Linked DNA regions of Homo sapiens. The protein of the gene in region 2 purifies or fractionates together with the protein of the main gene of each other region. This does not show direct contact. Each region holds a gene or a part of one and is shown on either strand. Other genes may lie near its edges.

The links. The genes of interacting proteins can lie anywhere in the genome.
Region 1: the proteins of UBE2R2 (region 2) and WDR4 fractionate together in Homo sapiens (co-fractionation; one large-scale study listed by BioGRID). This does not show direct contact.

What each region holds. Positions count from the first base shown.
Region 1 is NC_000021.9:42,855,368-42,859,039, forward strand, and holds part of WDR4 (tRNA (guanine-N(7)-)-methyltransferase non-catalytic subunit WDR4), read right to left. Parts: intron 414-3,672; coding exon 315-413; intron 1-314. UniProt on the Homo sapiens protein: Non-catalytic component of the METTL1-WDR4 methyltransferase complex required for the formation of N(7)-methylguanine in a subset of RNA species, such as tRNAs, mRNAs and microRNAs (miRNAs).
Region 2 is NC_000009.12:33,819,990-33,823,661, forward strand, and holds part of UBE2R2 (ubiquitin-conjugating enzyme E2 R2), read left to right. Parts: intron 1-3,672. UniProt on the Homo sapiens protein: E2 ubiquitin-conjugating enzyme that accepts ubiquitin from an E1 ubiquitin-activating protein, and catalyzes its covalent attachment to other proteins by an E3 ubiquitin-protein ligase complex.

The sequences.
Region 1 (3,672 bases), on a different chromosome or scaffold from region 2:
GGCCCCACCCCTGCCCCACCTGGCTGGCAGACCCACAAAGGTGCATGCTCAAGCACCTCCATTCCTTCCACTTCAGAGCAGGATTAGAGGCCTTCCTGTACATTAACTGTTTGCATGCAACAGGGAGACAAATTATTTCCCACTGACATGACGAGCCACCTTCAGAATTTGAAATACGAGATTTCCCTCACACAGGAGGAAGTCTGGCATTGAGAGCAAACGTTTCCAACGGCGAAGTGACTTTTCCACTCAAGTCAGGCGACTGCCGGTGTCTACAAGCACTCAGTCGCCCAGGAGTGAACAGAAGCAGCTACCTGGGGGGCCTGGGGGTCCACCAGCTCCTGCAGACTGGCCAGGTGACAGCAGTGCAGCTGGCGGCCGCTCCTGTACTCCCAGAGCCTCAGGGTGCCGTCCTGCACAAACCAAACACACAGGTTAGCACATGGTTGTGGGGCTTCCGTCAGGTAGGGTGACAGAGAGGACAGCTGCGTGTGGTCGGGGTTCCACTCCGTGACAGCCATGCCACCCACCCTCAGGAATTAAAGGCTCTCTGCTCTGACTGTGTAAATCGCTCATGCAAATCATCAAGGACAACGGTGGGGAACGGAAGGTGACCGATTCCCTGTTTCTCGAGTGCCAATATGCCCAGGCAGATGACAAAGCCAATGAGGCAGATCCTAGCAAAATAAGCCAAGGCCGCTAGATGGCCAGGTTGTCATCCGCCAGGAGGCCAGACCACATCTGCTGTGCCCGGGCCGGGCATAGACACGGGCATGCACACAGGTCTGCGCAGACACTTCAGCAATCATGCATTCCCACGGGGAGACACGTGTGGGCTCATGAGCTCGTGGCCACTGCTCCACTTCACTAAGAATGACAGGAAGGACATGGCCATCAGCAACCGTCCCACGACAACTGGTACAACCCTTCAGGAAGCCGACACAGGAACCAAGAGGCTCCACGCTCTAAAACCATCATCAATGGAAAAAAGCGTTTCTCTTTTTTTTCTTGGTTTTATCTGTTGTTATTTTTTTGTTGTTTAATTGAAATGGGGTCTATTCCACACTGCCCACTGCACTGCAGTGGCTATTCACAGGCTTGCTCCTGGCTCACTGCAGCCTCTGACTCCCAGGCCCAGGCAATCCTCCCGCCTCAGCCTCCGAGTAGCTGGGACTACAGGCATGAGCCACCATACCTGGCTTAAAAAAAATTCATTACAGCACTAATTCAGTGGAGAGAAATAAATCAATACTCATTAAATCTAATGAGAGAGTGTCTGTGCACTATTTGTAAGTATTTTTAAATGACTAAATGAAAAAGATGAAAAGTAAATACCCCAAACAGCTAACAGTAGATGCATATCCTCTGGGTGCCGAGGTAAGAGTGGATGTATGAATGCACACACACACGCATGCACATACACACGCACACACACACACCTTTCTACAAATGTGGCAGATAAACATGGAGACCAACACACACATCTACAGGCATTTCACTCACCCCCAAACCTCTCTACGAAGACAAGAAAAAGATGTTTAATAACCATGAACCCACTAAGACAAAGACAACAGGCAAGAAGAGAAGGCAGCCGCGGAGAGACAGCAAGGAAACCTGGGGGCTGGAGGCCAGGGAACAAATGCACCAGCCACAGAGAAGCCCGAGAGGTGCCAGGACCTGCCAAAGACCAAACCGGGCCAGGCAGCCTGAAGACCAAGGTGGTGAGGGGAGCTGTCAAATGTCTTTACAAAGAGAAACGGGACCTCCCTGATGCATCCTCAGCCCCAAACTCCAGGCCAGCAGAAGGCTCTGGGGAAACGGAGCCGAGGGGCCCCTGTCTCGGGGATGCCAAATACTCACTGAGAAGAGAGTCACCTAGCCCCTTCGCACTCACCTCCCAGAGCCCCAGGGGACAGACCTGGGCAAGAGTGAAGGCCGGGACACTGACCACCCAGAAGAGACCGACTGACCCACACGTTCTACGGAGTCCACAGGCAAGGGGCTGCTGCCCACAGACACCTGCTCTGAAGCCCCTCGGGCCCCACCCTGGGTGCACACACCCAGCCTCTGAGGCCGGCTGGTGCTGACTCCCATCACACACAGGCAGATGGCATCGCCAGACATCCGAGGAAAACCTCCAATGAGAAAGGCAGACAACACACTCCAGAGAAGGCAATCAAACACAAGGCCAGGAAGAAATTGAAGAAAGAAAAGTCCACGCTCATCTCAGTGAGATAAGAGACACGTGCACTATCCGAGAATGGGTGGCTGCAAAAAAGAACGTGCCGAGGGCAAGAAAGAACTAAAGATTCAAAATAATCCTAATAAAACTCAAGTCTCCACAGAAGGCTGGAAAGTAAAGTTGAGGCAATCTCCCAAGAAGTAAGACTATTCCTAAAGGAGTAGAAATACGAGATTGAACAGGAAAGAAAAAAAAACAGAGAATTATGGCCCAGCATGGTGGCTCTCGCCTATAATCCCAGTGGGCGGAAGTGGGTGGATCGCTTGAGGTCAAAAGTTTGAGACCAGCCTGGCCAAGCTGGCAAAACCCCATCACTACAAAAGTATAAAAAATTAGCGGGGCATGGTGGTGTGTGCCTGTAATACTAGCTACTCGGGAGGCCTGAGGTGGGAGGATTGCTTGAGCCCGGGAGGCAGAGGCTGCAGTGAACCGAGATCACGCCACTGCACTCCAGACTGGGAGACAGAGCAAGACTCTGTCTCAAAAAAAATAAGAATCAGAGCATTAAAGTGGTTCAACTAACACAAGCTTTAGAAAAAGTGAGCAAGAGGCAGGGGTAGAGAACAGAAGGTAATCATGTAAGAAAATGCCCCAGGTCGGAGGACACTGAAAATCACTGGCTGTGTGGCCAACTCCCCTCTGGGGCCCACCAAGTCACCTCAGTGGCTTTCACATCGCACACTGGAGCAGAGAAAGTCCTCCAGGCAGAAGGAGAGCCCAGCTGTCACCCCACGGACCCACGGCAGACAGCTGCAGGTTTCTACAGGAAGCGCGCGGGAAAACCCACAGGAGCAACCAGCTGGAGAGCACACTGTGCAAGGCCTCCCAAGCTCCGAGGGAAACCGTTTCAACCAGGACTTCTACGCCAAACTAACAACCAGGCCTCAAAGGAGATTAAAGGTATTTCCAGAAAAGCAAAGTCAGAAAACACTGACCCTCCTCGCGCCTTTTGGCAGCTACCAGATGACGTGTTCCACTCAAACAAAGCAGTAAGCCATGAGGGACAGATGGGGCCTGGGGAGGCTTCTCTGCCCGTGGAAGATTTTCCTCATATTATGAAAAAGACTGGAAGGTGCACAACAAACCGCTGACGAAGCCTGACCCTGACCCTGACCCTCTGGAGATTATGGCCACACTTTTCTTCTTCTCTCAGGTCGCGTGGCTGTGTGTTAATTTGAAGAGCAGGAACAGGAGGCTGTGAATGAAGCCCAATCAGAGAAGAAACATAGAAGCGGCCAGAAGGTCCATCAGCCATCCTGCCACACCACACAAAGGACCAACACAGACAACACAGGGAAGGACAGCGAAGAGGAAGGTGGTGGTGTGCGGGCAACAATTCCGCAAGAGGACAGAATCAGACCCTGTGAGGAATCCAAGGCCCTCACTTTGGCAAAATCACTAACAATCCTTCTAACACATTCCTTAGAGAA
Region 2 (3,672 bases):
GTGGAATAAAGTTTGATTTCCAAAAAGTGTCATTGTTTGGTACAACCGATATTTAAAATAAATAAATGGGTACTAGTTAGAATAATCTCACTCCAATAAAGTTAAAAACAAGAGCAAACAAAACAAAACAAAACAAAACTTGTACATGAGAGAAAATAATGGGTTGCAAGTTGTAATATTTGTGCATAAGTCTGGGAAAGGAGTGTGGAGAACCCTCTCTGAAATAGGAAGTATGGAAGGATTCCTTGTGTTAATACACTGATTTAAATTAAATGCTTCTGAACTTCAGTCCTTGTTTAAAAGAATGATTTAATCTCGTGCTTTGTGATGTTAGATTTCTTAAGCTTTGAGTGTTTTTACCTTTAATTCTGACATGTATGAAAATTTGTAAACAGGTTTTATGGTTTAGTCTTGTGTGAGAAGTTTGTTCGATTGTATTTTCGACTACTTTTTCCCTTATATGGCCTTTTATCCCATTAGTTGTTCATTAGAAAAAGGCAAATTTATGGTCATGAGCAGTTGACACTGGGGATATGTTTAAAACCATTGTTTTTATTTTACTGCTTTTGTCTTAAGACAAGGCTTTTAGTGTATTTCACTACAGCTGCAGTTGAAAGTTGGCACAAAGCTTTCCCTACCATATCACTCTTCTCCCTTATTAAATGTTAGTCCTTGAACATTTAGTATAATTTATTTTCAAGTTAAACTCTTTTCCCTTTTTGGCATAGTCATTCGTGAAGGCAGTGGGACTGCCAGTCATTCTTTACATTTTTCATACTGTAATTCCTTTAACTTTTATATATTAATAGGTTTCTAACTGATCTTTTTCACCCTGAAATAGTTGGCTCTTGTCTCTTACCCACAGGATCTGCATTGGAGATTTGTGAGACCTGTATTTCACAGAATTTTTTTATTCATCCTGCTTTCGCTTATTTAATATCGCCAATCCACGTGATTCTTAGTTTTGGGCCATATAGATGTAGGATGGGCAAAGATAGTTTCTTCTGTCCATTCTGAATACTATACAATCTTTTTTGGCCTTACTATCTTTTTGTGTAGTTTCTTATTTTGCTACCTAAGCAAGTCGGAATTTTATTGTTACTAGAAAAATAAATTGTGGATCAAGTCAGTAGCTAATGAAGACTTTTAACAAGTTCACCCCCTTTCTTTTGAAAGGAACTTTTTCAGGGTCTTTCTCTGTCACTTAGTTTGGGGTACAGTGGTGTGATCATGGCTCACTGCAGCTTCCACATCCTAGGCTCAAGCAGTCCTCCCACCTCAGCCCCCTGAGTAGCTGGGACTACAGGCATGACTACGCCCGGCTAATTTTTTTTTCTTCAGTATTGTTAAGTGAGGTAGGGTCTCACTATTTTGTCCAGGCTGGTCTCAAACTCCTGGGTTCAAAGGATCCTCCTTTCTCAGCCACCCAAAGTGCTGGTTTTACAGGCGTCAGCCACCATGCCCGGCTGGAACTATCTTTTCAAATAACTCCTGCTAAGGATTGTAGCTTAGTGTGGGTGCTTTAGTACTGAACCTCCTTGGAACTTTTGCATTATTTATCTAAAGCATTATAGCAGTGAGTCTAGAGCCAGAAAGAGTGCCTCTTTTATGATATGCATAACAAAAAAAAATTTTTTTTTTTTTTGAGATGGAGTCTCACTCTTTTGCCAGGCTGGAGTGCAGTGGCACGATCTCAGCTCACTGCAACCTCTGCCTCCTGGGTTCAAGCGATTCTCTTGCCTCAGCCTCCCGAGTAGCTGGGATTACCGGCGTGCGCCATGAAACCTGGCTAATTCTTTTTGTATTTTTAGTAGAGACAGGGTTTCACCATGTTGGCCAGGCTGGTCTTGAACCCCTGACCTTAAGTGATCTGCCCATCTCAGCCTCCCAAAATGTAATCCTAATTAGAGGCCTGAGCCACCACTCCTGGCCAACCTTTTATAGTTTTGATTTTATTAAATAATTTGATTGAGGTAATGAAATATAGATGTGTTCCATTTTTAGAAAACTCCAGTCTGATAATTTAGAAAGTATTTGTTGTATACTTAAAGTTTTCCTTATTAGGAACATCTTTATTAGACTCAACACTGACATATATATATATATATTTTTTTTTTTTGAGACTGAGTTTTGCTCTTATTGCCCAGGCTGGAGTGCAGTGGAGCGATCTCGGCTCACTGCAACCTCCGCCTCCTGGGTTCAAGCGATTCTTCTGCCTCAGCCTCCTGAGTAGCTGGGATTACAGGCATGCGCCACCATGCCCAGCTAATTCTGTATTTTTGGTAGAGACGAGGTTTCTCCATGTTGGTTAGGCTGGTCTCAAACTCCTGACCTCAGGTGATCCCGCTCACCTCAGCCTCCCAAAGTGCTGGGATTACAGGCCTGAGCCACCACACCTGGCCTACACTGACTTACATTAAAGAAACTCTTCAAAACCTTTTTTTTTTTTTTTTAAGAGATAGGGTCTCACTTTGTTGCCCAGGCTGGAGTGCAGTGGTGTGATCATAGCTCACTGCAGCCTGAAACACTTGGGCTCAAGGGATCCTCTTGCCTCACCCTCCTGAGTAGCTGGGACTGCAGGTGCATACCACACTCGTTTTAATTTAAAAAAAAAATTGTTTATGCAGAAAGGGTCTCATAGGCCAGGCTGGTCTCGAACTCCTGGCTTCAAACAATCCTCCCACCTTGGCCTCCCAAAGTGCTGGTGTTACAGATGTGAGCTACCACACCCAGCCAAATAATTTTTTTTTTAATAAGAGAATATGCATTATTTCCTATGCTTCATTTGTTTTGCAATGAATGAATCTATTTTCTGCCTTCCCTCTTCCCCCTAAAAAAACAAACCAGACTTAGCCTAGATCTGGCAATGTCATTTAGATATTTTATTTCTTTTTTTTCTTTTTCTTCTTCTTATTAATTTTTTTTTTTTTTTTTTAGCTGAGTCTCGCTCTGTTGCTCAGGCTGGACTGCAGTGGTGTGATTTCGGCTCACTGCAACCTTTACCTCCTGTGTTCAAGCAGTTCTCGTGCCTCAGCCTCCCAAGTAGCTGGGATTACAGGCGTGCACCACCATGCCTGGCTAATTTTTGTAATTTTTAGTAGAGATGGGGTTTTGCCATGTTGGCCAGGCTGGTCTTGAACTCCTGGCCTCAAGTGATCTGCCCACCTTGGCCTCCCAAAGTGCTGGGATTACAGATGTGAGCCAGTGTGCCCAGCCTATTATTATTATTTTAGAGACAGAGTCTCGCTATGTTGTCCAGGCTTGTCTTGAACTCCTGGGCTCAAGTAATCCTCCCGCCTCAGCCTCCCAAAGCACTGCGATTATAGGTCTGAACCATTGCACCCAGCCTATTTTATGACTCTTTAATTGGTAAAATATAGTTGAAAAAAAATTTTTTTTTTTCCTAGATGGAGTCTTGCTCTGTTGCGCAGGCTGAAGTGCAGTGGCGCGATCTTGGCTCACTGCAACCTCTGCCTCCCGGGTTCAAGCAGTTCTCCTGCCTTAGCCTCCCAAGTAGCTGGGATTACAGGTGCGTGCCAGCACGCCCGGTTAATTTTTGTATTTTTAGTGGAAACGGGGTTTCACCATGTTGTCCAGGCTGGTCTCAAACTCCTGACCTCAGATGATCTACCCGCCTTGGCCTCCCAAAGTGCTGGGATTACAGGCATGAGC